Homo sapiens: one gene and its partners. The protein of the gene in region 1 interacts with the protein of each later gene in a pairwise test. Each region holds a gene or a part of one and is shown in the gene's direction. Other genes may lie near its edges.

Region 1 (8,093 bases):
GCAGAAATCTGGGCTGGTCTTGAAAAGTAAAAAGGTAGAGACACAGAAAGCGCATTTCAGGAGAGTAATAAAAACAAATCTCACTAACCTCTAAACTTATTTTTCTTCACAGAACTCATAATTACCTGAAGTGTTATTAATCTGATTGTCTAACAGAATGTTCCTTTCATAATAGCAGGGATTTACCTTGCTCCCTTTCTGCTGTATTCCCAGTTTTTACAACCCAGCAGGCAGTCAAATACTTGTTGAATAAGGAAATGTATACTAAGCTGAATTAAACCTGAAGGCAGTTTTTTATTGGTAAATGTAAGTTACAGTGAAAATTACTTACTTACCAATATACCAGAGGGGCCAGTATGTCACATTGTAGTATGAACTAATCAATTTTCCAGTCCTGAAAAAAAATTAGAAAGGCTTTCCAGTGAACCTAAAAACACCAAAAATCAAAAACAAACACAAAAACCTGTGGAACCAGCCACTGGCTTCTTAAAGTTTCACTTTTTTTGGACTGATTCACTTACATTTCAGTATATATCATTCCAGCCATAGATACATTTAGGAGTCCCCAGGCTAAGACCACTTTCCTAGCCTCTGTTTCTTTTCTCATCTTGATGGTTCTGTCAATAAGGGAAGCACTAGGGTGTGCCTCCCCCTGCATCTATGAAAAAACAAAAAGCACAGGAATTAACCAGAAGAAACTATTGCTCCATTTAAAAACCAAATTTTGCATCCCTTATAAAGGTAACTGAAACCGCATATACCTTCTCTCATCTTTAAAATGTTTTATCAAAACTTCTTCCATTTTAATATCAGTATATGAAAAGGGAACCCAAAATTATATGTAACTTAATTGGCATCACAGTGTAATCAACAGAGAAGTGGCTGGTTATTTATCTATTTATTTGTTTTGAGACGGAGTCTTGCTGTCTCCCAGGCTAGAATGCAGTGGCGCGATCTCGACTCACTGCAACCTCCGCCTCCCGGGTTCAAGCGATTCTCCTGCCTCAGACTCCCGAGTAGCTGGGATTACAGACGCCCGCCACCGCGTCCGACTGATTTTTGTATTTTTAGTAGAGACGGGATTTCAACATTTTGGCCAGGCTGGTCTCGAACTCCTGACCTTGTGATCCACCCGCCTCGGCCTCCCAAAGTGTTGGGATTACAGGCGTGAGCCACCGCGCCCAGCCGTGGCTGGTTATTTAAGAACAATTTAATACTTCCAATACATAAAAATGTCTTATTTTGTAATTTAAGGGTTATGTCTAGAAATACTTTGTATTTTGTCTTTGGGGTATGTTACACGGACTAGGCAAAAGGCTAACTTCAGAAACTCAAAATGTCAAGTTTTGGGAGACTATATTCCATATCTGCTGTAAGTCATAAAGACTGTTGTACATCCTCATGCAGACGCCATTACTATCTCAACAACTCTGCACTTGGACAGCTGTACTCCAGGGCTCTCCCTTTTGTGTGTGGATAAAGGACAAGGATCCAAGTTTTAGAAGGGCACGTACTTATGATGGGGTGGTGAGCGGAGTAAGAGGGAGAGAGGGGAAAACGTGCATTGTTTTGGTCCACATTTGGGATTTATAATTCCTCCTTTCTTCAGCTAGGCTCAACTCTTACAGACCGTGCAAAACTTGTTCCAGCGACAAGCAGTCGTATCCCACAGAGGACAGAGCAATAGCTTTCGCGCCACTCAGCCCCCGCGTCCCAATTTCCCAGTCCAGAGCTTCCCTCCCCGGCTCCTGGGCACGAACTTCAGCAACCCTATTGCTTCTTTCTTCCCTTCCCCTAGAGAGGCGGAACGCCTAGCCACATCCCCCTTGGCTGAACCCAGGACAGATCAGCAGGCGCGGAACTCCCACAACCCGCGTAGATTCCAAGACAGGAAGCACAAACACGACCCCGAAAACGCACCATGTCCTCTGGCCGGAAAACGCAGGCTCGCGCCACTCTCTCTGGGCATGCGCAAAGCCAAGCTCAAGCGGGAGGCCACCGGCAAGCGGCTCTAAAGTTACCGGAAGAACTAGGTAGTCTCTTCTCGCGAGAAAGGGAGGGGTCGCAGGCCCAGGCGCTCGGAGCGTTACCAGGGAAACAGGTCTCGGTTTTGCGGCTCCCACTCAGCTGCGGGAGAAAGCTAAGCAGCAAAATTCAGACCAGGCTCTGAACCCGCAGTAAAAAGTAATAATTGTAACAAGCTGAATTTTGTATCTATTAATATAATTTTAGCTTCCCTAGGGCATTTATGGACTCACATGTGTAAACTGATTAAGTAGGGCGGCTCACCGTAGGATAGAGTGGCGTGATAAAGTGGCCAGACACCATCAGTGACAAAGCATTTCTTTCCCCTGTGTTAAAGTATCTATGTCAAGAGTCCTGACCCCATGTAATTTTTTTTTTGGTAGAGACAGGGTTTCGCCATGTTGGCCAGTCTGGTCTCGATTTCCTAACCTCAAGGGATCCGCCCGCCTCAGCCTCCCAAACGCCTGCTGGCCTCCCACCGCCTTTTGGGATTACAGGCGTGGCCCACCGCGCCCGGCCTAAATTCTTAATCTGTTTAATAGGGTGCAGCAATAACAAGCACACCCAAAATTTGTTTTATTGAAGTTGCTAGTGGTTTTGAGGTTAAAAATAATAACACATTTTCGTATGTATTTTTTGGAAGAGCTGCTCATCCTGAGGAAAAGGTTGAGCTTTGTTTTATTTAGCACAAATACCTACAAGTGTGCCGCTGAGCCAGGCGCACGGATATAGAAAATAAGACCTTCCTGGTTATTACCCAGAGGAGCTCAACCCCAGCGGAGGCCCACAGATGCATTTCGGTGGCAGGTGAGGTGGATGCAGTGCTCCCCAAGGAGGCGCATCCAGCCCAGCCCCAGCTCTCGCGAGCTTCCTGGAGGAGATGACGCGTTAGAGTCCACAGCCAGAAACCCAGGGCCTGGGGACTTGTTCTGAAGTGTGCCTCCTAATAAAAACATTAAGCCATGCCACAGTAAGCTAGTGGATTACATCATGTATGTCCAATGGCCAAAGTTTTTCCTAAAATGATCCTAAGATTAATACCACGTGGTATTGTATATTAATGAAAATCGGCAGGTATGCTGTGCTCTTGAAGAGCTGTTAAGTTTTATCATTTTTAGATTGCTTTAGCAGCAATGTTGTTTTGCTCTAGTTTTAGATTTAGAGATGAACTAACTGGAAAATTGTTCAAAGTGAAAGGGCTCAAGGTGCAATCAAAATTAGAATACCGGCCGGGCGCGGTGGCTCACGCCTGTAATCCCAACACTTTGGGAGGCCGAGGCGGGCGGATCACGAGGTCAGGAGATGGAGACCAGCCTGGCCAAGACGCTGAAACCCTGTCTCTACTAAAAAGACAAAAAATTAGTAGGGCGTGGTGGCATGCGCCTGTAATCCCAATTACTCTGGAGGCTGAGGCAGGAGAATCACTTGAGCCTGGGAAGCCGAGGTTGCGGTGAGCCAAGATGGTGCCACTGCATTCCAGTCTGGGCGACAGAGTGAGACCCTGCTAAAAAAAAAAAAAAAAAAAATTAGAATACCGGTTTCCCACCCCCTCCATATGTGACTCTTTCCTAAGAAGAAATTGTATGCATTTGATGTAGTTCATAGTAGTTCATAACGGGCACATCTGTGTTTTTCCCTCTTAATCTATAAGCTGTTGTGCATTTATTCAAGGCTTAAAAAAGAACACCACTGACCAAATGACAGCATTATGTATTAGGGCTGCCATAACGCAATATCACAGACAGGTGGCTTAAACAACAGAAATTATTTTTTTCATAATTTTGGAGGCTGGAAGTCTAAGATCAAATTGTCAGCAGGGTTGGTTTCTCCTGAGGCGGGTCTCCTTGCAGACGGCCCCCTTGTATTGTGACCTTGATTTCTGTGCTCGTGAATCCTTGCTGTCTTCTTGTAAGGATACCAATTGTATTGGATTAGGGCCCTTATGACCTCATTTAACTTTAATTACCTCCTTAAAGGCCCTGTCTCCAAATAGAGTCACACTGGAGGTGAGGGCTTCAACATATGAATTTTAGGGAACACAGTTTGATCGGTAATACATTAGAACTGTCTATGATAATTTGCAATGGCATGATACATATAAAAGAGACTGAATTAAAATGAGTGGATACATTAAACACTTAGACGTGAAGATAGGAAAATATAGCATATACAAGTTTTAGGAAAAAAAATTAAGGCAGAATGCACCATATTGAGGTATGGGGGAAAATAACATAAACATTCAGAGGAGTAATTTGAATAACCTTCCACAAACTTAGAAGTCCAAGAAGCATTTGTCAGTTCCTAGAACAGTTGCTTAAGTATGTGTCATAATAGGTTGCCAAGGAAATTGTCATACATCATAGAGGGAGTGAAGTAGTTCCCAGTCATCTTTATCCCTTTAAGCATGGTTTATTTTCTGAGCAAGGAGTCATCATGGGAGACCTTTTTTCCTTATTTTGGGAGGTAGATCCTCCCCCAATACCTGTAAATTGTGCCATTCCAAATCAGGATTATGAATGCTGGAAGGATGACTCTTGTGGAACCATAGGGAGCTTCCTGCTTTGGTATTTTGTTATCGTATTTGTCCTGATGTTCTTCTCTAGGGCTTCTGTCTGGGTAGGATATCTTTTTTTCATTTTAAATAATATGTTTACTGTACACTAGGAAAATTTCCATAAAATACATTTACTATACTTTGATGAAACTACTTTTAAAAGTTGTTTAGTTTTAAAAATAATGCAATCTTATTCTGGAGAATCCAGGAATATGGAAAAGGATGAAGAGGAAAATATAAAGCTACAGTTATCCTCTTTCCCAGAGATAACCACTGTTAACATTTTGGAGTATGTTCTTCCAGTTTGGTTTTTTTCTCTGCCTTTCCCAATATATCTCTCTCCATTTCTCTATCTTTGATCTTACATGGTTGGCATTATATTGCATATATTTTCATATCCTGCTTTTTAAGCTTAATAATATATCAGAAATACTTCTTTAAATTATATTCACTCAGCAGCACTTTTAATGACTGCATAATTTTCTATATTTTGATTGCACCAAAAAATTGTGCAAGTTTGAAACATTCAGATTGTTTACAGTTTATCCATCTGCTATGTAATGCTGGCATAAACCTCCCTGCTGGTTAATGACTTCCAAATCCCTTTTCTAGCCATGTGATTCTAATCAAAGATATGAAAGTTGTCATATTGATAGGATACATGCTGTAGGATTTTGGGGTTTTTAGAATGAAGCAATACGCTTTCTGCACAGAATAAGCAGAACTAGACTAAACAGAACTAAAGTCACCACTAAAATGCCATCGTCTTAAGAATGAGATATCCCACTTTATCAGGACTGTGATGCTTCCAACATATTATGAGTAACCAAGCTCTTTTTTTTTTTTCTTGAGATGGAGTCTTGCTCTGTCACCCAGGCTGGAGTGAAGTGGTGCAATCTTGGCTCACTACAACCTCCGCCTCCCGGATTCAAGTGACTCTCCTGCCTCAGCCTCCCTTGTAGCTGGGACCACAGGCGCAAGCCACCACGCTCTGCTAACTTCTGTATTTTTAGTACAGATGGGGTTTCACCATGTTGGCCAGGCTGGTCTCAAACTCCTGACCTCAAGTAGTCTGCCCGCTTTGGCCTCCCAAAGTGCTGGGATTACAGGCATGAGCCACCGCGCCCAGCCGTAACCAAGCTCTTATAATTTGCTGACATGATATCCTTGCTGGCCATTAATACCAGGCTGATGATTAAGAAAACCACCATCATTTAGCATTATAGCCATAGGCCTGGGCTGGCAGTGGTAAGACTTAATGCTCTATGAGCTCGGATGGGGTGGAGAAGGTTTGTTATGTCCATGCCAGCTGGATTCCATTCTAATCAAAGACTCTTTGATAACCACCACCTCCTGGTGAAGAACTTTCATCTAAAGTCTAAATGCTTCTTAAGGTAAATACTTTGCCAAAAGGAGATTTAGAATAATGATAGCTTATATGTGTCTTAGACTCCCTAGCTAAGTATATTGAATTTGGCCTGGCAAGCAAAGCTACTTTAGAAAATTACCAAAAAAATTTCATCATGAATTAAGAGGTCTAAGCTATTTTTTTTATTTTTATTTTTTGAGACGGAGTCTCGCCCTGTTGCCCAGGCTGGAGTGCAATGGCACGATCTTGGCTCACTGCAACCTCAGCCTCCTGGGTTCCAGTGATTCTCCTGCCTCAGCCTCCTGAGTAGCTGGGATTATAGGCGTGCATCTCCACGCGCAGCTAATTTTTGTATTTTTAGTAGAGATGGAGTTTCACCATGTTGGCCAGGCTGGTGTCGAACTCCTGACCTCGTGATCCACCCGCCTCGGCCTCCCAAAGTGCTGGCATTACAGGCGTGAGCCACCACGCCTGGCCCAGTCTAAGCTATTTTTTCTGCTCCCTTGCTTGCATCAGCTCTTGGGAGTCATACAGCCTTGAGCTTCCAGGACCTCAAGAGAGCATGTGGTCCAGCCTTCTGTTTGTAGGCAAGTAAGTTATCATTATCCCTCCCCCACTCATTTTTTTATTGATAAGCCCCAAGTAAATTAAGTGACTTGTCCAATGTCACAAAAGTGTTAGTGACAGAAGGGGAATATACCCAGATTTCCTGTCAAATTATTTGTTTGCTTCAAAGCATAGTTTGAAATGTCCACTTAGATCTACTCAGTCCTGATTAAAACCTTAATTATTTTAGAGGTTTCGTTTTTCACTTTGTACCCTTGTGGCAGCTACAATCAGCTAGACTGCTTCTTCTGAAGGGTCCCAGATTTGAAATCTGAGAACAATATGAGAGCTAGTAAAGGAGGATGGAATTTTTCCTTCACTTTGAACTTCTTCATTTTCTCTGCTAAACTATGAGGCTTTATTTACAAACCTTGAAGTAATGGTAAAAGCACGATGGAAATGTGGTGGTAATTATCCTCCAACATGAAGCACGCTGATTTCCTCTGAATTTGCCACTTTTTAAAGTGGCATTTACCCTTTTGCTTTCAGACTATAAATACTATATTTAGTTTATATTTTTATTTTGTGTTTATTCAGATTGCTAGTGCTGGTATTTTTCTGGACAATGGTAATCCAAACACCTTATTTTGCTTATGTGGAAACTGAGCTTAAGAGGTGTTAAGTGGCTTGGAAAAATCAAGAGTTGTTAGTGGCAGAAAGAGAGCCACGGCCCACATTTTCTACTCTGCCCCTCAGGGCAGGCACTCCTGCTGTTTTCACTCACTGAGTCACAAAGACAGTTAATAAAATGCTTTTCGTAACCACAGTTCATATGATCCCACTTAGTTTAATGCAAAATCTTTCTTTTGATTTTGTGGCTATGTTTTGATTTGACATCAAATGTGAGAGCTTTCTGTGGAAATGATATAAGCCTAATAAGTGTTTTTAAATACCTTCTCCTGTCTATTACAAAAGTACACATTATATAGAAAATGTGGAAATTATAGGGCAGAAGACAAAATAAAATAAAAATCACTCCAGATTATGTAGAAATAACCAACTACTGTTAACTTTTAGGTTTATAAACTTCCAATTATTTTGATTTTCTTTACATATATTAAATTTATTTTTTTCCTTTTCTATAACCTAAGTGATACATATTAAATTTAAAATATTTAAGCCTCTTCCAAAAGCATTTTTTATAAAGTGGTATCTTTTTTTTTTTTTTTTTGAGACAGAGTCTCGCTGTCACCCAAGCTGGAGTGCAGTGGTGCAATCTCTGCTCACTGCAAGCTCCGCCTCTCAGGTTCACACCATTCTCCTGCCTCAGCCTCCTGAGTAGCTGGGACTACAGGCACCCACCACCACACCCGGCTAATTTTTTTTGTATTTTAAGTAGAGACAGGGTTTCACCGTGTTAGCCAGGATGGTCTCGATCTCCTGACCTTGTGATCTGCCCGCCTCAGCCTCCCAAAGTGCTGGGATTACAGGCATGAGCCACCGTGTCTGGCCAGAAAGTGGTATCTTAAAAGTGAACTCCGCTTTCAAGATTTTTGGAGAATGATTGCTGTAACCCAGAAAACAAAAAGGCACCTCATT
Region 2 (7,668 bases), on another chromosome or scaffold:
TAGGGAATAGGATAGCTGGGGCAAGCCTTAGAATTCTGATTTGGGAAGGCTGGTAGACCCCAGGCCATAACAAGGCCACGGGAGGACTCTTGAGAAATGATAACAGGCCTCACCTCACTCACCTTCCCCTTGCCTCACACAGCCCACCACATGCAGCCCCCTCAGTCCTCACCCATGGCCTTGGTGACTGGCAGTGTCCCCATATACAGTGCCTCGTACTTCTGAGCAGCTTGGCTTACCGCATCCAGCAGCTCCACTGAAATATACACACCAAGTTGGCCTGGAAGCTCTTTCAATTACCCTTTTCCCCACCCTTCTCAATGGGCCAGGACTCAGGTCAGAGCTGGTGCTGGTAGAAGAAATGGCTCATAGATGCTCCTCCAACTAGTGGCTTGGGATCCCTGAGACCAGACATCTCAGAAATTTATCCACAGAAGTATTAAATAACCAGAAATCGCCCCCCCACAAAGCAGCACCAAAGCACCCCAATGCAGCAATGCAGGTCTCCCCTCCCCATACCTTGCCGTGGCAGGTCTTCAGGAGAGATGGGGTCTGGGGAGCAGCAAGAGGCATCACCACTGACCTCTACTCGCTCTGACAAGATCTAAAACACAATGAAGCCAGCATGACCCACAGGGAGAGAGGGGAATTAGGGTAAAAGGGCCAATACCACCCCAACTACCTTGGAAGCTTCAGACCCAACCCCTTACCCACATTCCCTGCCCCACCCCTGACACTTACCTGGGCACAAAGCCCATGTAGGGCACTGGCAATGGCCTTGGCAGGGACATCACAGCAAAACACATGGCACTTGAGCATACAGCTATCTTTGTCACTTGCCACAAAAGCGAAGTCCCTAGCAGGGGCAGAGATGGGGCTGGGGTAGAAGCTGGTTAGAGGCAGGAGCCTGCAGGAGGCTGGAAAGTCAGGCTAGGGATATAGCAGGGATGGAGTAGGGACATCAGGGATGGGGCTCAGGATACCTGGTTTTCACTCACCTGTCACTGTTCCGGAAGCATGTGGGAGCACAGAAGGGAATCAGCCCAGCCTCTCGGACTCTCCCCAAACTGTCCCTGCTGAGCTGGGCCCACCCTCCCCAACCAGGGCTGGACCAGGCAGGGGAAGCAGTCCTGGGTCCACATCAGAGGATCTGTGTCCAGGGGTTCAAGTACTGGGGATCAGCATCAGTGGGGATCACAGCCTGCAGCCGGGAGGGAGAAGTAGCTCTTGCTTGGGGGATGTAGGCATCCTCACCGGCCCTTGGAGCTCCCCACGCCCCACACACGGATGTGCACCAGAGGCTGGCAGTGGATCAGACTGTGGTCCAGGGGATTCACTAGGCTCATGGCATCCTTCTTCAGGATCATCAGCATGTTCTGGCCCTGCCAAGGACAGAGGTCAGCCCAGAGCTCAGATAAAGGTCATTGCCATGAGAAATAGGAAATTCAGGGACAGCTACCTCTGCTGGGCCCTGGGCCCAAACCATTAAAGGGCCCAGCCAACTCACCTCACCCCAGGCACCATCTGGAGGCTGGCTCCGGCTGCGGGTCTGGGCCAGCTGCTGGATACAGTTATTGACTGCAATACTGCTCTTCCCCGGTGCCAGGTCCTCTTCAGGTACCTCTACCCAGCCCAGAGAGCGGACTGCAAAGCACTGACAGGTTGGGGGAAGGGACAGGAATTAATAAGGATGGAGTAGGGTGGCAGGTGCCACAATACATACTCCCTGTCTTCACCCTTGATCACCTCTGTTCAGTCCAATCCCACCCTTGTCTTTCCCTTGGGACCTCCCAATGCCCTCAGGCCCAAGTCACTACCTTAGCCCCTGGCTCCATGCTCTGGATGTAGGATTCCCCACCATACCAGGACAGAGAGTTACTGAAACAGAGCAGAGCTGTTAAGAGGACCACATTTCCTACAGTAGGGACACTGGTGAGGCCTAGACAACTTGATAAGCACAGGATGAGGGGCAAGACCCAGAATATAGCACCAGAAATATAAAACCAGAGCAGGGTAGAGCCCAGGACATATTAACGTAACATAAAGTGTGACTCAGAATTTGAGGGAAAATTCAGGACATAGGACCCAGACACAGGACATAGAATAAAAGTCACAAGGCTAGGTGCAGTGGTGGCTCACGCCTGTAATCCCAACACTTTGGGAGGCTGAGACGGGTGGATCATGAGGTCAGGATATCGAGACCATCCTGGCCAACATGGTGAAACCCCATATCTACTAAAAATACAAACATTAGCTGGGCATGGTGGCATGTGCCTGTAGTTTCAGCTACTCAGGAGGCTGAGGCAGGAGAATGACTTGAACCTGGGAGGCGGAGGTTGCAGTGAGCCAAGATCGTGCCACTGCACTCCAGCCTGGATGACAGAGTGAGACTCCATCTCAAAAAATAAAAAATAAAAGTCACAAAATAGAACAGGGTCCAATATGTGGACCAGAACCCCAAAGTGGGACAAGAGACCCTAGAACAGAGGACTTAATGGCCAAGGTCTAGAACATGATAGGTTAGGACCAAGAATATGAAAAACATGTAGCTACAAACAAGAGCTTAGAACAAGGGATAAAACTCAAAATACTGACAGTTAAGAACCTGGGACAGAGCCAAGAACGTAACAGAACCCAAAACATGTGACAGAATCCAGAACCTGGGCTGGAAAGCAGACCATGGGTCCAGCTGCATTTTTGAACACCATGGAACCCCAAGCCTTTCATTTTGCCTGGGCCACCCGTTACCTCCGGTCCAGTGAACTCTCCAGGCTGGAGAAGGATCTCCCTTTGGGGGGCCGCAGTCCCCAGATCCCCTCCGTTCCCTGTAGAGTGGGAGTTAGTCAGTTTAACAGCAGACCTAGGTCCACACATGGGCTCAGACCTCCTCCTCACACTCTACCTACCGTGCCTGGGTCCTCTGCATCTCCTAGTTCCCAGGTTGGGCGCTGCCACTGGGTGCTACCGCTGGGTACATGCCAGTAGTAAGTACCTGCAGCATCGTGGATCTTCCTCCAGCCAGGAGGCAGGCCAGCCTCCACCTCCAGACTGTGGTCCCCCCACAAGTCATCTACAGGAACACCGGATTAGAGAGGAGGGAGCATATGATTTGTGAGTTCAGAATAACATGCTGTCATAATCCCCTCTCCATCCCCAAAATGGGTCAGTTCTTAGGCTGAAGATCCAGGCTCCTCAATCTTGAAGACATCACATGTAAAGACCGGGTTCATTCGCCCCCTGGTCCCTACACAGAGAGGTATCCCCCACCGTCTTTGAGCCCCAGAGTAGCCTTTCGGATTCCCTCGTCCTCCCTCAGCTCCTGGTCTTCCCACCGGGCCCCTCCGTGCACACCATCGCAGTTGACCAGAATGATGGCCAGCATGTAATCCTTGCCCAGCATAACCCCGGCTGCTCCCCGCCAGCCTCTGCCGGCCCGCACTCTCAGCCCAGCGCGACCTCTGGAGCTACTGCGCCTGCAAGCCCAGCCTCTCTGCGCCGCAGGCTGCGGGGCCAGCTGGCGCCGCACAAATACGGGGCGGGACACGGGGCGGGACACGGGCCGGTCCCGGGGGAGGGCCTGAGCCGCACAGCCCGCCCAGGGGTGGTGCGTGTAAACGGGCGTCTGGATCCCCGAATGGTTGCGTGTTTCCGTGTGTGGGTCCGGGGGAGGCCCACGAACGCCAGCGAAACCGCTGACACCACCGCCCAACTATGAACTCATCAGGCGCCTGAAGACCGACACGCCGAACATGCGCCGCGCGCACTCGCGCACGAGTGAGATCATCGCGCCCCGGTCGTGAGTGCGCTCACACGCAGCCTGAGACTCGACGGGAGGGGGTCACGTGGAAGTATCTGAGAGAGGCGTACTTGGCCACTAGGAAAGCACCTCCCCCTTTCCAAAAATGCTCCGGAAGTGCCTTCGCCCTCCGTAAAGATGGCCGGGGCAGTCGGCACGAGGGAGGCGGGGATGCGCCTGCGCAACAAGTTCGGCGGGGAAGATGGCGGATGACAAGGTGAGTGGCCGTGGGGGTGATCTGCAGCCGGGCGTGGTCTTCACTCTCCTTGACCTTTTTAGTTCCGGGGAGAAGCGACTCTGGAGCGGCTCAGGAGTGAGGATGTCCCTTGTTTCTTCTGCGGCTCCTGTCAACTGCCTCAACAGTGTGGAGTGGTGTGGGGAGAGCATTCGGCGAGGCGGGAGGAGCCGTGGATCCCCCAGATGTCCCCTCCTGGGAACCATCACGAACCCGTTACTAGCACAGACTCAAAAACATTCACCCTTAAACACTCCTCACTTTACCCCATTCCCTAGCTCCCGAAATTTTCTTCCCAGTGACACGATGTTTCCAATCACACGGACACTCACACCACCCTCATTCAAACACTCCTTTGCATACATTCTGAATTTCATACTTATATGCGATCAAAATCACTCAGTCCATTTACTTACACACTTGCCGACAGTCTTTTTTGTCATTCTCAGTCACATCCAGTCACTCACATTCAGTTTGGGATGTCCTTGGGAAGAAAGAGGTAAAGCCCATCCAGGAACCAAGACAATAAAATTGTCCAGGAAACTGCCTCGGTCCATTACTCACCATTGGTCTAGAAGCTCAGCATTACCCACACATTTACTAAATGTCAGGCACTAGAACATAGTAGCCAAGACAGACTGGTCACGACTTTCAAGGAGCTCATAATGGAGTCAGTAGTGGTTTCCTGATGGACCTAATTAAAGGTCCCTAGCTGTCCCTCCTGCCTTTCCTACATACTGCTTGCTATATAAAATTCTTGTCAAGGTTGATGTAAGTTACTGGTTCAGATCCCATCTGTCAGTCCCTTCCTGGCCCTCATTTGAATTCTGTGCTTTTCAATGCTTGTCTTTCTTTGCCACTGCCATCTCAGGAAGCTTTTATAGGAAAAGGTCTTTCTGGCTCACCCCATCCCCTCCCAATTCCCAGCTTCTGATGGAATTGAGCAAGGGGTGGGGCTTAGTCAGACTGCTGGAGCCAGCCTCTCGCTTGTCCTAGGATTCTCTGCCTAAGCTTAAGGACCTGGCATTTCTCAAGAACCAGCTGGAAAGCCTGCAGCGGCGTGTAGAAGACGAAGTCAACAGTGGAGTGGGCCAGGTAAGGACTGTCCCACCCCACCCCTGCCTTAGGCTTTATTGCCCAACATGCTCTTGAGAGTGTTAAATGGATGGTAGAGATTTCTTCAGCAAGTGATTATTGAGGGCCTATTCTCAGTCACCCTAAGGACAATTTTTCTGAATGGCACATGAACTAATATCTTAAGTAGTGGTTAAGTAGGTGAAGAGGGGAGGAAAGAACATTCCAGGCAGAACAGCATATGTAAAGGCCTTGTGGTAGGAAGTAGCATTATAAACATGAGGGGTGAAAGGAGGTCCATTTGGCTACAGTAGTTGGGGAGCATGCTAGGAAATGAGGCTGGAGAAACCGGCAGGGCTAGGGGCATCTCTGACCTTGTGTGGCGGTGGAGTTCTATGGTTGGAGCTTTCTGACCCCAGGGTTCTGAGATTGTGTGATCAGAACTGCTTGGTTCTTTTTCTGGCCCCAGAACCTTGGGAAAAATCTGGAGAAAATACCACGGTTGTCCAGGGTGAGGAGGAGCTGGTGGTGGAATGCTCTAATCCCAGCTTGAGTAGCCCCTGGACAGTCAGGAAGGAGCCTAGCTAAGTTTCCTTCTGCATTTTTCTCTGCAGGATGGCTCGCTGTTGTCCTCCCCGTTCCTCAAGGGATTCCTGGCTGGCTATGTGGTGGCCAAACTGAGGGCATCAGCAGTATTGGGCTTTGCTGTGGGCACCTGCACTGGCATCTATGCGGCTCAGGCATATGCTGTGCCCAACGTGGAGAAGACATTAAGGGACTATTTGCAGTTGCTACGCAAGGGGCCCGACTAGCTCTAGGTGCCATGGAAGAGGCAGGATGAGCAGCTCAGCCTTCAGGTGGAGACACTTTATCTGGATTCCCCAGCTGTCATCCATTTGCTATCTCCAACTTTCCTGCCACCTTCATCCTTGCCTCCCTTCCTGCAGATTGTGGACAGTAGTTCCTCAGCCTGCACCCTGGATTCCTTCTTCCCCTTCCTAGCTCCATGGGACTCGCCCCAAGACTGTGGCTTCAAGGACCACCAGCCCCTTACTCTTCAAGCCCTGACTGTGGAGTTGGTAGATGCCTCTGATCCTCAGTATTCTCTCTGGCAATGTTCCACGGCTTCTCCTTCCTGGGAGCTGGCTCCATAACTTGATTTTCCCCAAACGTGTTGCAATCCCTGCTGCCCCTTAGCCACCCAGGGTCTTGTGTGGGTATGAGTGTAGAGGATGGGGGTATGCCAGGCCTGGGCCGTCCCAGGCAGGCCCGCTGGACCCTGATGCTACTCCTATCCACTGCCATGTACGGTGCCCATGCCCCATTGCTGGCACTGTGCCATGTGGACGGCCGAGTGCCCTTCCGGCCCTCCTCAGCCGTGCTGCTGACTGAGCTGACCAAGCTACTGTTATGCGCCTTCTCCCTTCTGGTAGGCTGGCAAGCATGGCCCCAGGGGCCCCCACCCTGGCGCCAGGCTGCTCCCTTCGCACTATCAGCCCTGCTCTATGGCGCTAACAACAACCTGGTGATCTATCTTCAGCGTTACATGGACCCCAGCACCTACCAGGTGCTGAGTAATCTCAAGATTGGAAGCACAGCTGTGCTCTACTGCCTCTGCCTCCGGCACCGCCTCTCTGTGCGTCAGGGGTTAGCGCTGCTGCTGCTGATGGCTGCGGGAGCCTGCTATGCAGCAGGGGGCCTTCAAGTTCCCGGGAACACCCTTCCCAGTCCCCCTCCAGCAGCTGCTGCCAGCCCCATGCCCCTGCATATCACTCCGCTAGGCCTGCTGCTCCTCATTCTGTACTGCCTCATCTCAGGCTTGTCGTCAGTGTACACAGAGCTGCTCATGAAGCGACAGCGGCTGCCCCTGGCACTTCAGAACCTCTTCCTCTACACTTTTGGTGTGCTTCTGAATCTAGGTCTGCATGCTGGCGGCGGCTCTGGCCCAGGCCTCCTGGAAGGTTTCTCAGGATGGGCAGCACTCGTGGTGCTGAGCCAGGCACTAAATGGACTGCTCATGTCTGCTGTCATGAAGCATGGCAGCAGCATCACACGCCTCTTTGTGGTGTCCTGCTCGCTGGTGGTCAACGCCGTGCTCTCAGCAGTCCTGCTACGGCTGCAGCTCACAGCCGCCTTCTTCCTGGCCACATTGCTCATTGGCCTGGCCATGCGCCTGTACTATGGCAGCCGCTAGTCCCTGACAACTTCCACCCTGATTCCGGACCCTGTAGATTGGGCGCCACCACCAGATCCCCCTCCCAGGCCTTCCTCCCTCTCCCATCAGCAGCCCTGTAACAAGTGCCTTGTGAGAAAAGCTGGAGAAGTGAGGGCAGCCAGGTTATTCTCTGGAGGTTGGTGGATGAAGGGGTACCCCTAGGAGATGTGAAGTGTGGGTTTGGTTAAGGAAATGCTTACCATCCCCCACCCCCAACCAAGTTCTTCCAGACTAAAGAATTAAGGTAACATCAATACCTAGGCCTGAGAAATAACCCCATCCTTGTTGGGCAGCTCCCTGCTTTGTCCTGCATGAACAGAGTTGATGAAAGTGGGGTGTGGGCAACAA
Region 3 (7,627 bases), on another chromosome or scaffold:
CTCCTGACCTCAAATGTTCCACCTGCCTCCGCCTCCCAAAGTGCTGGGATTACAGATGTGAACCACTGCACCTGGCCCTAAGACTTTTTATCATCCACAGACAATTGTTGTCTTGTTTTGATCTTCTTTAGAAGGTAGTTTATAATCAGCCATAGGACTTTAACAGGTGCACTTAAATGCAGGTTTCTGATAACTTTGGAGATTGTGACATTAGAATAGAGGAAACAACTTTCAGAACTCTCATGGGGAGCTGAAATGTTCATAGATATCAAACAAAAGTTAACTGCATAAACTAAAGAAGACTAAAGCAATCTTTTTGCCTTTGCTTAAAACATTGCTGATCCTTTGTTTTATTTTTTAGAGTCAAGGCAACTTTTCTTTTCAGATATTTACAGCTTTTAATAATCGAGTAAAGTATACTCCTGTGAACAAAATTTGGAGTATATGCATCTCTCTACTTGATTTCTCCAGAATTTGGAAATTATTTGTGTGTATTCTTAATTTATGGCAATGCAGTTATTTGCATAAGGGTAATAAGAATCTGTTTTCTTTTGCAACAGGACACAATTGGAGAAATTGTTTATTTTATGAAGGGTTTGACTGGAATGGTGTGCTTTCCATTAAGGAATCAAACTTGACTTGTAAAGCCTATAAAAGCCACTTAGCGACCTGGGCTCATAACCTTGCCTACACAGTCCCTGTACAGGGTTTCTGACCTGTGGTAAGTAAAGAATGTCACCTTCTAAAAGGTCCAGGAGCCCCAAGTTATCTGGGGACCTCAAAAGGAGAGGAAGAATTTACCCAACTCAAAGGTATTTGAGGGCACAAACCCATGGCAGGGCTCAGCTTTAAAAAGTCTTATCCAAGATTCTTTCTATGGAACAGAGTTCCATCAAAGCCAATTTTAAAAGCCTACGTGAAAAATAATTATTCTTGCTGCACTTTATACAATCATCAGGCCAAGTATAATAAAGCACATTGGTCTTACCATAAAAATGGTCTTTCATAAAAATGGGAAACTGGAGAGAGAAAAATTATGTTTCAAGAACTATGATACACTTGTTATTAAATTCCAGTCTCATCAGTTGTCTTTAAGTTTGTTTCTGCAATTTAGGCTAACCCTGCTTAGTCCTGTGAACCAACCAGTGGCCTCTGACTGCTGCTCAGAAGAAACAAGAGGGATGGGTAATGTAAAAATCTGCATCAATATTCTAATTCTGGGCATGTACTGGAATCATCTAGCAACCTCATATCAGCGTGGTTCCAACAGTTCCTCAGTTCATGGAAAGCCTTCTAGTTTAGTTTACTTGGGATAATTTTACTTATTTTGCTTTATGGTTGTGGAATGTATAGCTGTTGTAATCTTTGTATAGGAATGGAGGACAAGCTTACTGAATGTTTCCTTAAACTGAACACTTATGAATCTTCCAGAGTATCACCTTTTGTCAGAACTCATGAGTTATGAATGGCCCTCAAGATACCAATGCTTTTTCTTCCCTTCCCTTCCCTTCCCTTCTTTTCTTTTCTTTCAGATGGAGTTTCATTCTTTCAGGCTGGAGTGCAATGGCACAGTCTTGGCTCACTGCAACCTCCGCCTCCCAGGTTCAAGAGATTCTCCTGCCTCAGCCTCCTGAGTAGCTAGGGTTACAGGCACCCGCCACCACATCTGGCTATTTTTTTTGTATTTTTTAGTAGAGACAGTGTTGCACCATGTTGGCCAGGCTGGTCTGAACTCCTGACCTCAGGTGATCCGCCTGCCTCAGCCTCCCAAAGTGTTGGGATTACAGGCATGAGCCATCCCGCCTGGCCCATACCAACACTTTCCAACTGAGCTCCTCTCTACCACGAATATGAGAGATTCTAAGAGTTAGGCAAAAATATCATCGCCCCTATTCATCCTGAAGAACTTACAGAAGATGGACCTTCGTCCCTCTGCAACCCTTAGGATTAGTGCTTCTCTTATAAAAGGAAGGGGGGAAATGTCAGAGGCACGTGAACCAGAGCAAGTCTATTTTGAACAAGAGCTGAGTAAAATGAGAATGAGACTTACTGGGCTGCATTCCCAGATGGTTAAAGCATTCTAAGTTACAGAATGAGATAGGAGGTTGCCATAAGATACAGGTCATGGCCGGGCATGGTGGCTCATGCCATGACAGTTTATAAATGCCATGACAATGACAGGAAGTTACCCTATATGGTCTAAAAAGGGGAGGCATGAATAATCCACCTCTTGTTTAGCATATCATCAAGAAACAACCATAAACATGGGCAACCAGCAGCCCTCGGGGCTGCTCTGTCTATGGAGTAGCCATTGTTTTATTCCTTTACTTTCCTAATAAACTTGCTTTCACTTTACTCTATGGACTCGCCCTGAATTCTTTTTTTCTTTTTTTTGAGGCGGAGTCTCGTTCTGTCACCCAGGCTGGAGTGCAGTGGTGCGATCTCGGCTCACTGCAACCTCCACCTCCCGGGTTCATGCCATTCTCCTGCCTCAGCCTCCCAAGTAGCTGGGACTACAGGCGCCCACCACCATGCCCGGCTAATTTTTTTGTATTTTTAATGGAGACGGGGTTTCACCATGTTAGCCAGGATGGTCTCAATCTCCTGACTTTGTGATCCCGCCTTGGCCTCCCAAAGTGCTAGGATTACAGGCATGAGCCGCCGCACTCAGCCTGAATTATTTCTAGTGTGAGATCCAAGAACCCTCTCTTGGGATCTGGATTCAGACCCCTTTCCTGTAACAAGATTAGGCACCAGGAGAAACTGACACACATGGATGATATAACAGATGCCTAAATGGATCCTATGGGGGAACTGGAGCTGGAACAGCCCTTTAGAGTTGTCGCAAAGTGAGGCAAAGAGGCTAGACTTTTATATCCCTCCATCAATCAGTGTTTGACATGGGCCCCATAGGAGGGCATGTAACCTTCGGTGAGGCATCTTTCTGACTTGAAGGGCATTGCCCAATGAGGGAGGTAGCTATGTGGTATCAGCAGCTGGTATTTCCTACATGTAGCGAATGGGCATATTGGCTCCCAAGGGGGAATCTGGGTGGAGCACTATAGTATCCATTAAACCTAGTAAAGAAATATTATTTCTTTACTAGTCACACAGATGTGCCCAGGACAGTGGTAGAGCCCACAGGGTTACATAAATCATAATGGTAGCCCTCAAGAACTTCATAAACTGTATATGGTATTTTAAAAAGTTGCATATTGTCTGTTTCCACCTACTAGAACATAAGCTCTAGGAGGGCAGAGACTATGTTTTGTTCACCACTGTTTCTCCAGTGTCTAGACGTAGATTCTTTGAATGCATTTAATTGGAGCCTTGAGATATGAAGAAGTAGGATGCGGTTACTTCATGCAGAGCAAGAGTGGCATGCACCCAGAGAAGGCCAGGTGGAGCTCAGCATGAGTGTGAAGGCCTCATGTCAAGCCATGTCAGGGGACACAAAGATGGAGTATTCTCTAACCTATGTGACACTCGGCATAAGGGAAGTACAAGCACTCAATATGTGAGTTTCATTCCCACAGTCTGTGGTCTTTAGCCCAGTCTTTCCAGATGCCTATTGAGTTCTTCAAGCATCCAAATGGTTTGGGGTAAGGCTTCAGGTTCTAAATGAGAGGCTTTGTGGGTTACCAGCTGGAGAGTCAGAAAATCTGGATTTGAATTCACTCAGCCATGAAATAATTGTGTGATCTTGGGCCGGGCACGGTGGCTCACGCTTGTAATCCCAGCACTTTGGGAGGCCAAGGAAGGTGAATCACTAGAGGTCAGGAGTTTGAGACCAGCCTGGCCAACATGGTGAAACCCCGTCTTTTTTTTTTTTTTTTTTTTTGAGACAAAGTCTCGCTCTGTTGCCAGGCTGGAGTGCAGTGGCACAATCTCGGCTCACTGCAACCTCCGCCTCCCTGGTTCAAGTGATTCCCCTGCCTCAGCCTCCCGAGTAGCTGGGACTACAGGCGTGCACCACCACGCTAATTTTTTTGTATTTTAGTAGAGATGGAGTTTCACCATGTTGGCCAGGATAGTCTTGATCTCCTGACCTCGTGATCTGCCTGCCTCGGCCTCCCGAGAAACCAAGTCTTTACTAAAAAATATCAAAATTAGCCAGGTGTGATGGACCTGTAGTCCCATCTACTTGGGAGGCTGAGGCAGGAGAATTGCTTGAACCTGGGAGGTGGAGGTTGCAGTAAGCTGAGATGGTGCCACTGCACTCCAGCCTGGGGGACAGAGCAAGACTCTCTCTCAGAAAAAAAAAAAAAAAAAGTTTGATCTTGGGGAGTTCTAAGGCCCACTAGCCTCATCTGTAGAATGGAAGCAATAGTACTACTTTGCAGAGCTGACTTCAGGACCAAGAGATCTAATGTCTATGAAGCGGGGTACTTCCTTCTATTTGTCAGGATGGGGGAGGCTAGTCCTGTGATGACTGGGAATGAAGGGTAAAAGAGACAGAGGTTGGGTAAACTCCAGGCTCTGTGTTCATAGCCTGCTCCCAGACATTCTCTTGTTATCTCTCTGTTTCCTAGCCTACACACGTGCACAGACACGTAGCTGCTGTTCAGGAACTGAGCTAATGGTTTTAAAGTCTGTTCCTTATCTTTGCTGGAGGCAGGCAGTAGCTGTGCAGTGACAGTGTGCCTATGCAGACAGAGGGAGCAGTGAATAGCAATAGGGTGTTTCCACCATGGTCTTCACTCAGGCCCCGGCTGAAATCATGGGCCACCTCCGGATACGCAGCCTCCTGGCCCGGCAGTGCCTGGCAGAGTTTCTGGGTGTGTTTGTACTCATGGTAGGTAGGATCACTGCGGGAAGGAAAGAAGGGGGTTGGGCAAAAGTTCCTGGCTCCTTCTGTTGTCCTTATCTCTTTCTCTTGGTGTCCCCCTTCCTCTCAACTCCCTATCACTTTTCGTTTTTATCCTCTCGTCTCTCCTAATCTCCTTTCCTCTCCTACTTCATCATTTTTATTCTTGTCATTTTTATTCTTTCTTTAATAACAAGTGTATCATAGTTCTTGAAACATAATTTTTCTCTCTTCAGTTTCCCATTTTTATGAAAGACCATTTTCATGGTAAGACCAATGTGCTTTATTATACTTGGCCTGATGATTGTATAAAGTGCAGCAAGAATAATTATTTTTCACATAGGCTTTTAAAATTGGCTTTGATGGAACTCTTCCATAGAAAGAATCTTAGATAAGACTTTTTAAAGCTGAGCCCTGCCATGGGTTTGTACCCTCAAATGCCTATGAGTTGGGTAAATTCTTTTCTTTTTTCCCACATTCTTTCCCTTTCTTCTTCCTCCACTTTCCCCATTTCTTTTCCCTTCCCTCCTTCTGCTTTTCTCCTTCCCTTGCTTGTCTTCTGTGCTCATTCATCTCCTTGGCTGCTCCCCTGGCCTTCCCAACCTTTCTCCCTGTTGGTCTCCTGGGCTCCCTGTTCCTCATCTCTCCTCTTCTCAGCAGCTCCTCACCCAAGGAGCTGTGGCCCAGGCTGTCACCAGTGGAGAAACCAAAGGCAACTTCTTCACCATGTTTCTGGCTGGCTCTCTGGCCGTTACGATAGCCATCTACGTGGGTGGTAACGTCTCAGGTGAGGAGGGTGGGGTCTGGTCATCAGAGCACGTGGGATGTGCATGCCAGTTTGTCTGTCTGGTGATGGTGGAAACGCAAATCCTTCTGTGACTCGTGGACATTATCCCCTTGAACAGTGTCCCAGACTGAAATAAGCCTTTGGCCCCACCAGCCCCTCCTCTTTCTGTATCTCTCCATCCTGCTTCCTCACACTAATGCTTGGCTCACCTAGACAGAAATCAATGGCAGGGCACGAAGGGCAGCTGCTATCCTCTTGTATCCCCCACCTGAAGTCCTCTGGGGGCTCATCTCCACTCAGGACCTCTCCTGTTTGTACCCCAGATACACACTGCATCGGTGTGCTTGGGTGGAGCCTTGAGACATAGTGTGTTGCTGTGGAAAAAGCAGACAGACCTAGGTTCCAACTTTGGATTCACAGTGTCTTCTTCTTTTTTTTTTTTTTTTTTCTTTTTTTTTGAGATGGAGTTTCACTCTGTTGCCCAGGCTGGAGAGCAGTGGTGTGATGTCTGTTCACTGCAACCTCTGCCCCTGGGTTCACGCGATTCTCCTGCCTCAGCATCCCGAATAGCTGATTTTACAGGCACCTGCTACCACGCCTGGCTAATATTTGTGTTTTTAGTGGAAACGGGGTTTCACCATGTTGGCCAGGCTGGTCTGGAATTCCTGACCTCAAGTGATCCACTGCCTCGGCCTCCCAAAGTGCTGGGATTACAGGCGTGAGCCACTGTGCCTGGCCCACAGTGTGACTTTGCTAAGTCACTTAACATCTGTAACATCTGGAGCCTCAATTTCCTAAGCTGTGTGATGAGAATTACACTATCTGCCTTAAGAGCTATAGGAAGGAGCAGTAGTGTTGTCTGGTGACAATGCCTGGCAGTGACACTTAATAGATGCTCTTTTTCTTTCCTTGATACTTGAAGGGGCCCACCTGAATCCAGCCTTCTCCCTGGCCATGTGCATCGTTGGACGCCTCCCCTGGGTCAAGCTCCCCATTTACATCTTGGTGCAGTTGCTGTCTGCTTTCTGTGCTTCGGGAGCCACCTATGTTCTCTACCATGGTGACAGAGGGAACAGAGGGAGCTGTGCCTTGAGAGCACCTGTGGGTGGGCAGGGGTGCCTCAGAATGGTTTTGGATGAATGAGCAAAGAGGGAAATCCTGGGTGTTCCCTTCCTCCACAGATGCCCTACAGAACTATACAGGTGGGAACCTGACAGTGACTGGCCCCAAGGAGACAGCCTCCATTTTTGCCACCTATCCTGCCCCCTATCTGTCCCTGAACAATGGCTTCCTGGATCAGGTAAGTGTGAGGGGGAGACCTGGGGACACTACTTTGGTCCTGTTCCTCGGCACCCCAGCCTATTGTTCAGTCTCTGGGTGGAGTGTGGGTTGGGTCTATCTTGGCACTCCCCACCATCCCCAACTGCCTGTGTTGCACAAAGCCAGATGACATGGAATATTTGGATGAGAGAGGGCAGATGGAGCACCTGGCAGCTGACAGGGAACCCTCTGCCTCTGTTGACTCCAAGGTTCTGGGCACTGGGATGCTGATTGTGGGGCTCTTGGCCATCCTGGACAGACGGAACAAGGGAGTCCCTGCGGGTCTGGAGCCTGTGGTGGTGGGGATGCTGATCCTGGCCCTCGGGTTATCCATGGGTGCCAACTGCGGGATTCCACTCAACCCTGCCCGGGACCTGGGCCCACGTCTCTTCACCTACGTGGCTGGCTGGGGTCCTGAAGTCTTCAGGTGGGAGACAGACTCTCCTGGTGCTGGCCTCCACTCACCTTCCTCTGCTAAGGGCTCTGTCCCTGGGTCCACAGCACTCTGCCTTTAAAATAGCTCTCTTGGCTTCTTAGGACAGTGTTCTTTCTCCAAGTCATATTCTCCCCCTTTCTCCCTTGCTTCCCTCCCAACTTTTCACTGAAACAGTAAGATTTAGAGGTTGTGTTCTTAGGCATGCCACATTACTTCCATGCACATTAGTGACTTCATCAGCAAAATTAATATATTCAGATAATTCCCTAAGGCAAGA
Region 4 (8,101 bases), on another chromosome or scaffold:
GTACTATGTTAAGCATTTATAAGAATTATTTCAGTTTACTTTCATGTTAGAGCCATATAAAGGATACTATTGGCTGGGCACAGTGGCTCATGTCTGTAATCCCAGCACTTCGGGAGGCCGAGGCGGGCAGATCACTTGAGGTCAGGAATTGGAGACCAGCCTGGCCAACATGGTGAAACCCCGTCTCTACTAAAAATACAAAAATTAGCCAGGTGTGGTGGTGGGCGCCTGTAATCCCAGCTACTCGGAAGGCTGAGGCAGGAGAATCGCTTGAACCCAGGAGGTGGAGTTTGCAGTGAGCTGAGATTGCACCACTGCACTCCAGCCTGGACAACAGAACGAGATTCCATGTAAAAAAAAAAAAAAAAAAGACACTATTATTACTATTCCCATTTTCTACATGGGAAAATTGAGGAAAGTGGTAAGAAACTTTCTCAAGGTCACATAGTCAGTGGAAGAGCCAGAATTTGGACCCAGGCCTCTATCGCTCCAGAGCCAGAGCTCTTAAACCACTGTGTTCAACTGCCTCCCAGTTTTCAAGAGGCCCACTCACCTTCAGTCGTGACATTCCATTGTTAGCTATATCCATATGACCATTAGGCTATAATTCACAATGTAGTCATTTTACCAGTTTTAAGAGTTCCAGATGCCTCCCTACTCCCATCTGTGTGGTGTCACAAAGCACCCTTACTTTACCACTTCCTTGCTGCATGACAGTAGTGGACACTGTCAGTGTTCTGACCAGATGCCCTGGGAGTCTTTTTACCGATTTTTATTTTTATATCCCTGGGTTTTGGTGTGTGTTTGCTTCTAATGGTGTACATCTGTGACTCTTCAGGCTGAAACTACCTTCAGGGAAACTTTGCTTCTTCCCTTTCTCTGTTCCCTCTAGCTCTTACCAATTCTCCTGGGAGCACATTCTTGACAAGTAACTTGGACATGAATCCTCATCTCAGGATTTGCTTCTGGGGAACTCAATCTAAGACAATGAGTGCAGGGGTTGCCAAATGCAGCTTGCCACCTATTTTGTTAGATAAAGTTATATTGAAACATGGCTATTCTCATTCACTTTTTTTTTTTTTTTTTTTTTTTTTGAGATGGAGTTTCACCCTGTCACCCAGGCTGGAGTGCAGTGGTGAAATCTTGGCTCACTGCAACCTCCGCCTCCCTGGTTCAAGCAATTAATTCTCTTGCCTCAGCCTCTGGAGTAGCTGGGATTACAGGTGCCTGCCACCACACCTGGCTGATTTTTATGTTTTTAGTAGAGACGGGGTTTCACCATGCTGGCCAGGCTGCTCTCGAACTCCTGACCTCAGGTGACCCGCCCGCCTCGGCCTCCCAAAGTGGTGGGATTACAGGCGTGAGCCACCCTGCCCGGCCATCATTCACTTTTGTATTGTCTGTAGCTGCTTTTCCACTACAATAGCGGAACCAAGTCATTGTAAAAGAGACTGTGTAGCCTGCAAAGCCTAAAAAATTTACTTGTTTGGCCATTTTCAAACAAAGTTTACAGACCCCTAACCTGGAGTAAGTCTCTTAGTACTTTTGACTTGTCTTCAGGGGTTGTCATAAGGATTAAGTAAGTTAGAAAGGGCCCAGCACATTCTCTGGCTCTTATCAGGCACTCAACTTAAGTCTGTTGAGGTGGAATGTAACGTAGAGTATTTCCCAAGTTGTGGGTCCTGTTCTTACATCTTGGGGATTCTAGAAATTCCCCTTTTGATTTTTAGACTTCTTGCCCCTCCTATCCAGAAAAGGATAGTTCCCAGTTAAGCAGATTTTTTTTAAAGCATCAGTTTGGTGAAAAACCAGTCAAGCAGATTTTAAGGCAGTGTTACTCTGCCAATCACCAGCATAAGAATCTGCTGTGAAGCTTGTTGAACATACAGATTCCTGAGACCCACATTAGACCATCCCTGGAATTAGAATCTCACAGTGCAGTCTAGTTCCCCAGGTAATTTTGATACACACTAAAGCTTGAGAAAACAGATCTAAGGTAAATCTATAAATAAGTGCAATGGTTTAAAATCACAGATTCAAGAAAGTGTTTACTTGTGGGGAGAAGGGGTTTTAGGAGGACCACACAGAGAACCTTGAATATACTTTTCATTTTGCCAGGCATTGTTCTAGGTATCCTTCATGCTCATTTAATCAACTTAAAGCCCAATTAATAAATATGCTTATGTTTTTAAGGTTGAGAAAATGGAAGCACAGAAATTCAAGTATTTTGTCCAGGATTACACAGCCAGTATAAGCCGAGCCAAGATTCCAACATAATTCACTGCCTCTGGAGTCCAAGGTGGTTTTTTGTTTGTTTGTTTTTTGTTTTGCTTTGTTTTGAGACAGGGTCTCATTCTGTCGCCTAGGCTGGAGCCCATTGGAGCCATCACAGCTCACTGCAGCCTGGATCTCCTGGCTCAAACGATCCTCCTGCCTCAGCCTCTTGAGTAACTCGGACTATGGGCACAGGCCACCATGCCCAGCTAAGTTTTAATTTTTTTTTTTTTTGAGACAGGGTCTTACTCTGTCACCCAGGCTGGAGTGGAGTGGTGCAATCTCAGCTCACTGCAACCTCCACCTCCTGGGCTCAAGTGATTCTCCTGCCTCAGCCTCCCAAGTACCTGGGATTACAGGCACGTGCCACCACACCTGGCTGATTTTTGTATTTTTAGTAGAGACGGGGTTTCACCATGTTGGCCAGGCTTGTCTTGAACTCCTGACCTCAAATGATCCACCCGCCTTGGTCTCCCAAAGTGTTGTGATTACAAGCATAAGCCACTGCTCTGGCCTAAATTTTTTGTAGAGATGGGATCTCACTATGTTGCCCAGGCTGGTCTTGAGCTCCTGCGATCAAGTGATCCTTCCACCTTGGCCTCCCAAAGTGCTGGGATTATGAGCATGAATCATGAGGCCAGCCCAGAGTCCAAGTTCTTTTCTTTTTTTTTTTTTTTTTTTGAGACAGAGTTTTGCTCTTCTTGCACAGGCTGGAGTGCAATGGCATGATCTTGGCTCACCACAACCTCCGCCTCCCTGGTTCAAGCGATTTTCCTGCCTCAGCCTCCCAAGTAGTTGGGATTATAGGCATGCGCCACCACACCCGACTAATTTTTTGTATTTTTAGTAGAGATGGGGTTTCTCCATGTTGGTCAGGCTGATCTCGAACTCCCGACCTCAGGTGATCCGCCCGCCTTGGCCTCCCAAAGTGCTGGGATTAATGGCGTGAGCCACCGCGCCCAGCCAAGTTATTAACCACTAAATTATACTTTTTTTTCTATCCCTAGTAATGTTCTATTTCTCAAACTGAGTGGAATAGACACACACATTAGATTTGTTATTTATACCTTACATATATATTACATATACCTTTTTTATTTATTAAAGACTTCACTTAAACATACAAAGGCTTTTACAAAGAGCAAAGTAAAAACGACAATTGGAAGAAAATCTGTTGCTCATTCAAACTTTACTAGCGCCTCCAAGGCTGACACTAGGAGAGAACCTCAAGAGGTCAGCCGAACACCCCAGAGCCCTACCTTTCCTCCAGCACGTCTCCCTTTGGGGAATCGTATCACCCTGGGCGGCAATCTCCCCTCCACCCCTAGAGGGTGCTGTTCTCACTCTCTAAGGCATAGGACCAAGTTTCAGACAGGACTCTCTCTAGGTGACTCTGGCTCCCAGTGCCCAGGGGCAAAAAGAAAAGCGCTGGGCATTATTCTCGAGGTGCCTGCGCGTGCCGCCTCCGATGTGAACTCGCAGTACCATTTCTAGAACTGAATCTAAAGCTCAGAACGGGTTCATGACTTGTCCTAAGTTTTACAAGTCAATTAGCGCTAGGACTTGATCTCGGTCCTCTGAGCAATCCGGTCCCCAAGGCTGCCTGCCTCCCGAGGGTCCGGACAGGGTCTTGGGTACCCCCAACGCTCAAACTCTGAGGGACTGTCTTTCTCCAGAGGGCCCCGGGACCAACAATCTCTTACTCCTGTTAGCCTTGACTAAATACAGCCGGGACTCTGAAGGAGCTGGATCTCGCGTCCCAACGCAGGCGTCCTCCAAGAGGGATAGACAGGCGGGAGGAAAGCGGACCAGGCCAAGCCCATGCGGCGCCGGTCCTGCCAGCTCTACCTGGCGGGGCCGCGCCGGGATTACCCACCTAGCACAAGGATACGGTCCTCGGGCCGCAGCTCCGGCTCTAGGAGGGCACGGAAGGAGGAGAAGTCCCCGAACCAATCGTAGGGGGCAGAATCGGCTGCGCCTTGGTAGCGCTGATCCCAGTACTCGACTTCGCGGTACCCGCAGTTCCGCTCCGGTAACTCCGGAGGCGCCCTACCTGCCCCTGGAGAGGCCATGCTCTCAACCGCCGGGCAGCCAGAGCCGCCGGCCCTTCAGCCAATACGGAAGGCAGGATGCAGAAGGCGGGGCGCTGGTGTCTCCGCCCACCACCTGCAGTTGCTCAACACAAACACGTGGAACTTCCGTCCTTTACTAAGCGCTCTTCGAAGAATCCTCCGGCTGGGAAAACTATCGTCCAGACCCTGAATCCTCCGGCTGTACTGCCAAGTCATTTCCTAGGGCCGCACTCAAGGTGTCAGACTCACGTGGGCTCATCACTGCGTCCTCTCATATTTTCAATATGAATGACTTTTATCAGGAAATCTGAAAATTAGTGAAAGGTTCATTTTTCTCAGCATCCGGAAGGCTCGAAGGGCAGGCAGGAGGGGCGCGAACAGGGGCTTTGCCCTCCTGGAGAGACAGCATGAACACAGATGTTCCCAGCGCAGGCGAAGGAGAATGCTGGCTTCAGCGGTTGTGGGGGAGGTAGGCAGGAATGTTGCTTTTCTGGACATTCGTTCTAAATTAGCGCCTGTGTACCCAGGGCTGGGTATAAACTGAGGAGTAAGACATTGTCCCTGCTCCTATGGAGCGTGGAGTGCATCAGAGGAGACAAATGCAGAAAAATTACATTTTAGTGGAGTAAATGAAGACTGGCTACTCGGATCGGCGCTTAGCCTGGTGGGACGCCAGGCACGGGAAGCGGAACCTAAGTGTCGAAGGTTCGGGTTTCCGGGGGTGGTGGGCCCACACAAGCGGCGCACCGTTAAGATGGCGGCTGGGCTGCGGAAACGCGGCCGGTCCGGTTCCGCGGCCCAGGCAGAGGGACTCTGCAAGCAATGGCTGCAGCGCGCCTGGCAAGAGCGGCGCCTGCTGCTGCGGGAGCCGCGCTACACGCTGCTGGTGGCCGCCTGCCTCTGCCTGGCGGAGGTGGGCATCACCTTCTGGGTCATTCACAGGGTGGCATGTGAGTGCGCCGAGGGGGAGGGGAGGGGAGGGAGGGAGACCTGAACCCGCGACCCAAACTGGATCTCAGACCTGGAACTCCAAACCAGACTCTGTATCCACTCACTCGTCAATTGCGAACCCATCCATATCCCTTACCTGAGCGCCAAGCCTGCTCTACAGAAAACCGGATCTTAATCTGCCCGCATGGCAGAGGTGGATACCCTAGAGATTGGCCTTCTGCACTGAACTTACAGCCTGCAAACCAGCTTAGAAGTCAGATTTGAGCCAAAATTGTTGTACTGCTGCTGCTGCTGCTTTTCTCTGTGGCTTTGGACACCTCAGGTCTCCTCCTGGATCTCAGCTTTTTCCATGTGTTCAGTTCTGTGATCTTTGAACGTCCCTTCTCAATGATGGCATCTTGTGACCACTTGAGTCCATTAGGCATTATTGGCTACTCCTTTCCAGGCTGAAACTATACTCTAGGCTTAAGGCACTTGGCTTTCTTGCTAAAGACTCTTAATTCAACAAATATTTATTTAGTGCTTATTATATGCCTAGCATTATGCTGGTTACCAGAGAGAGGTACAGTGGTGAATAAGAGATGCATTTCTGCCGGGCGCGGTGGCTCACGCCTGTAATCCCAGCACTTTGGGAGGCCGAGGCGGGCGGATCACGAGGTCAGGAGATCGAGGCCATCCTGGCTAACACGGTGAAACCCCGTCTCTACTGAAAAAAAAAAAAAAAAAAGAATTTAGCCGGGCATGGTGGCGGGCGCCTGTAGTCCCAGCTACTCGGGAGGCTGAGGCAGGAGAATGGCGTGAACCCGGGAGGCAGAGCTTTCAGTGAGCCGAGATCACGCCACTGCACTCCAGCCTGGGCGACAGAGCAAGACTCCGTCTCAAAAAAAAAAAAAGAAAAAGGATGCATTTCTAACTCGGGCCTGGACAGTAAGTTAGCAGGCAATTATAATGCATCATAATCATGGTAGTAGTAACACAGGATACCATAAAGGGCATAGGAAGTCACTTAAACCAGGTTGGAGGAGTCAGCAAAGGCTTCATAGAGCCACCCTTGGAAGGTAGGAATTAGCTATTTAAGGAAAGAAGAAAAAGGTGAGGGGAAGGAGTGCTGTGGACAGAGGATCCTCTATTAAAAATCTCCAGCTAGGCTGGGCGCAGCGGCACACGCCTGTAATCCCAGCACTTTGGTAGGCCTAGGCGGGTGGATCTCCTGAGGTCAGGAATTTGAGACCAGCCTGGCCAACATGATGAAATCCTGTCTCTACTAAAAATACAAAAATTAGCTGGGCGTGGTGGCATATGCCTGTAATCCCAGCTACTCGGGAGGTTGAGACAGGAGAATTGCTTGAACCCGGGAGGTGGAGGTTGCAGTGAGCCGAGATTGCGCCACTGTACTCCAGCCTGGGTGACAGAGCAAGCTCCGTGTCAAAAAAAAAAAAAATTCAGTTAGACTGGGCACGGTGGCTCATGCCTGTAATCCCAGCACTTTGGGAGGCTGAGGTGGGCGGATCACTTGGGGGCAGGAGTTAAAGACCAGCCTGGCTGGGCACGGTGGCTTATGCCTGTAATTCTAGCACTTTGGGAGCCCGAGGCGGGCAGATCACCTGAGGTCAGGAGTTCAACACCAGCCTGGCCAATATGTTGACACCCTGTCTCTACTAAAATAGAAAAATTAGCTGGGCATGATGGCAAGTGCCTGTAATCCCAGCTACTTGGGAGGCTGAGATGGGAAAATGGCTCGAACCGGGGAGATGGTGGTTGCAGTGAGCTGAGATCGCACCACTGCACTCCAGCCTGGGTGGCTGAGCGAGACCCTGTCTCAAAAGAAAAACAAACAAACAAACCAGCCTGGCCAACACGGTGAAACCCCATCTCTACTAAAAATACAAAACTTAAAAAATTAGCCAAGCATGGTGGCACACACCTGTAGTCCCAGCTACTCGGGAGACTGAGGCAGGAGAATCACTTGAACCCGGGAGGCGGAGGTTGCAGTGAGCTGAGATCGTACCACTGCACTCCAGTCTGGGTGACAGAGTGAGACTCTGTCAAAAAAAAAAAAAAAAGAAGACAGCCTGGTTCCTTTGAGGAACTGAAATGATTTTTTTAGAGCTAGAGTGTAGAAATCAAGTGAAGGGAGTAGTAAGAGATGGGAATGCAGAAACTGAGGCCAGATCATGAAGGAATTTGAAAGCTTTGTTAAGAAGATAGCATGATAATTAAGAACTTGGGACCCTGCAAGCTTCAATCCCAACTCCACCATCCTAGCTCAATTATCTTAAGCCAGTCACTTAACCTAATTAATTCTTAGGCTCCCCTTCAAAAAATGGGAATAATACAGAGTTTTCTTTATCTTAAGGGTCTTGGGGAATCATTGAGAGGTTTTAAGCAGAGGCCTGTTATGATTTGTATTTTAGGAGGAGCTCTTTGGTGTACGAGGTGGAAAATATATTGTAGCAGGGTGAAAGTAGAAGTCAGGAGCCTAATTAGCAGGCTATTGTATACTCATTGGGGCTAGAGATTACTTTAGGCTCAAATTTGAGTATGTAGTAGCAGAGAAGGATGAGATAGAGATATTTACGGTGAGGAACAGGCAGAACTTGTTGACGAAGGGTTGCAAATGAGAGAGGAGGGAGTATCAAAGATGTTACTCAGGTTCGTGACCTGGTAGCTAAGAGGTCGGTGGTGCCATTTGCGGAACCCAGGAAAAGGAGTAGATTGGAATGGGAAGAAAGATCACAAATTCACTTATAGAAATGTTGAGTTTGAGATGCCTGGGCTCACCCAGAGAATGTCAGATAAAGAGT

What was found.
Region 2: the proteins of SSMEM1 (region 1) and SLC35A4 interact in binary tests that used the Homo sapiens proteins (3 or more experiments, as listed by UniProt).
Region 3: the proteins of SSMEM1 (region 1) and AQP10 interact in binary tests that used the Homo sapiens proteins (3 or more experiments, as listed by UniProt).
Region 4: the proteins of SSMEM1 (region 1) and ALG3 interact in binary tests that used the Homo sapiens proteins (3 or more experiments, as listed by UniProt).

The regions. Positions count from the first base shown.
Region 1 is NC_000007.14:130,203,453-130,211,545, forward strand, and holds the start of SSMEM1 (serine-rich single-pass membrane protein 1), read left to right. Parts: upstream 1-4,407; 5' UTR 4,408-4,458; coding exon 4,459-4,641; intron 4,642-5,834; exon of another isoform or gene 5,835-5,961; coding exon of another isoform or gene 5,962-5,973; intron 5,974-8,093. Other genes in the region: TMEM209 (transmembrane protein 209), read right to left, coding at 336-394, 522-658, 1,921-1,923.
Region 2 is NC_000005.10:140,560,846-140,568,513, forward strand, and holds the start of SLC35A4 (probable UDP-sugar transporter protein SLC35A4), read left to right. Parts: upstream 1-3,982; 5' UTR 3,983-3,998; coding exon of another isoform or gene 3,999-4,013; intron 4,014-5,027; coding exon of another isoform or gene 5,028-5,126; intron 5,127-5,719; coding exon of another isoform or gene 5,720-5,917; 5' UTR 5,918-6,324; coding exon 6,325-7,299; 3' UTR 7,300-7,668. Other genes in the region: APBB3 (amyloid-beta A4 precursor protein-binding family B member 3), read right to left, coding at 173-256, 520-604, 742-877, 999-1,004, 1,255-1,382, 1,508-1,654, 1,818-1,878, 2,749-2,825 and 2 more; SLC35A4 upstream microprotein, read left to right, coding at 3,999-4,013, 5,028-5,126, 5,720-5,917. UniProt on the Homo sapiens protein: Mediates the transport of CDP-ribitol. Does not exhibit CMP-sialic acid, UDP-galactose and UDP-N-acetylglucosamine transport activity.
Region 3 is NC_000001.11:154,316,466-154,324,092, forward strand, and holds the start of AQP10 (aquaporin-10), read left to right. Parts: upstream 1-4,627; 5' UTR 4,628-4,690; coding exon 4,691-4,795; intron 4,796-5,464; coding exon of another isoform or gene 5,465-5,467; coding exon 5,468-5,594; intron 5,595-6,516; coding exon 6,517-6,654; intron 6,655-6,775; coding exon 6,776-6,894; intron 6,895-7,123; coding exon 7,124-7,341; intron 7,342-7,627. UniProt on the Homo sapiens protein: Aquaglyceroporins form homotetrameric transmembrane channels, with each monomer independently mediating glycerol and water transport across the plasma membrane along their osmotic gradient. Could also be permeable to urea.
Region 4 is NC_000003.12:184,245,940-184,254,040, reverse strand, and holds the start of ALG3 (dol-P-Man:Man(5)GlcNAc(2)-PP-Dol alpha-1,3-mannosyltransferase), read left to right. Parts: upstream 1-5,078; 5' UTR 5,079-5,100; coding exon 5,101-5,296; intron 5,297-8,101. Other genes in the region: EEF1AKMT4 (EEF1A lysine methyltransferase 4), read right to left, coding at 4,151-4,346; EEF1AKMT4-ECE2 readthrough transcript protein, read right to left, coding at 4,151-4,346. UniProt on the Homo sapiens protein: Dol-P-Man:Man(5)GlcNAc(2)-PP-Dol alpha-1,3-mannosyltransferase that operates in the biosynthetic pathway of dolichol-linked oligosaccharides, the glycan precursors employed in protein asparagine (N)-glycosylation.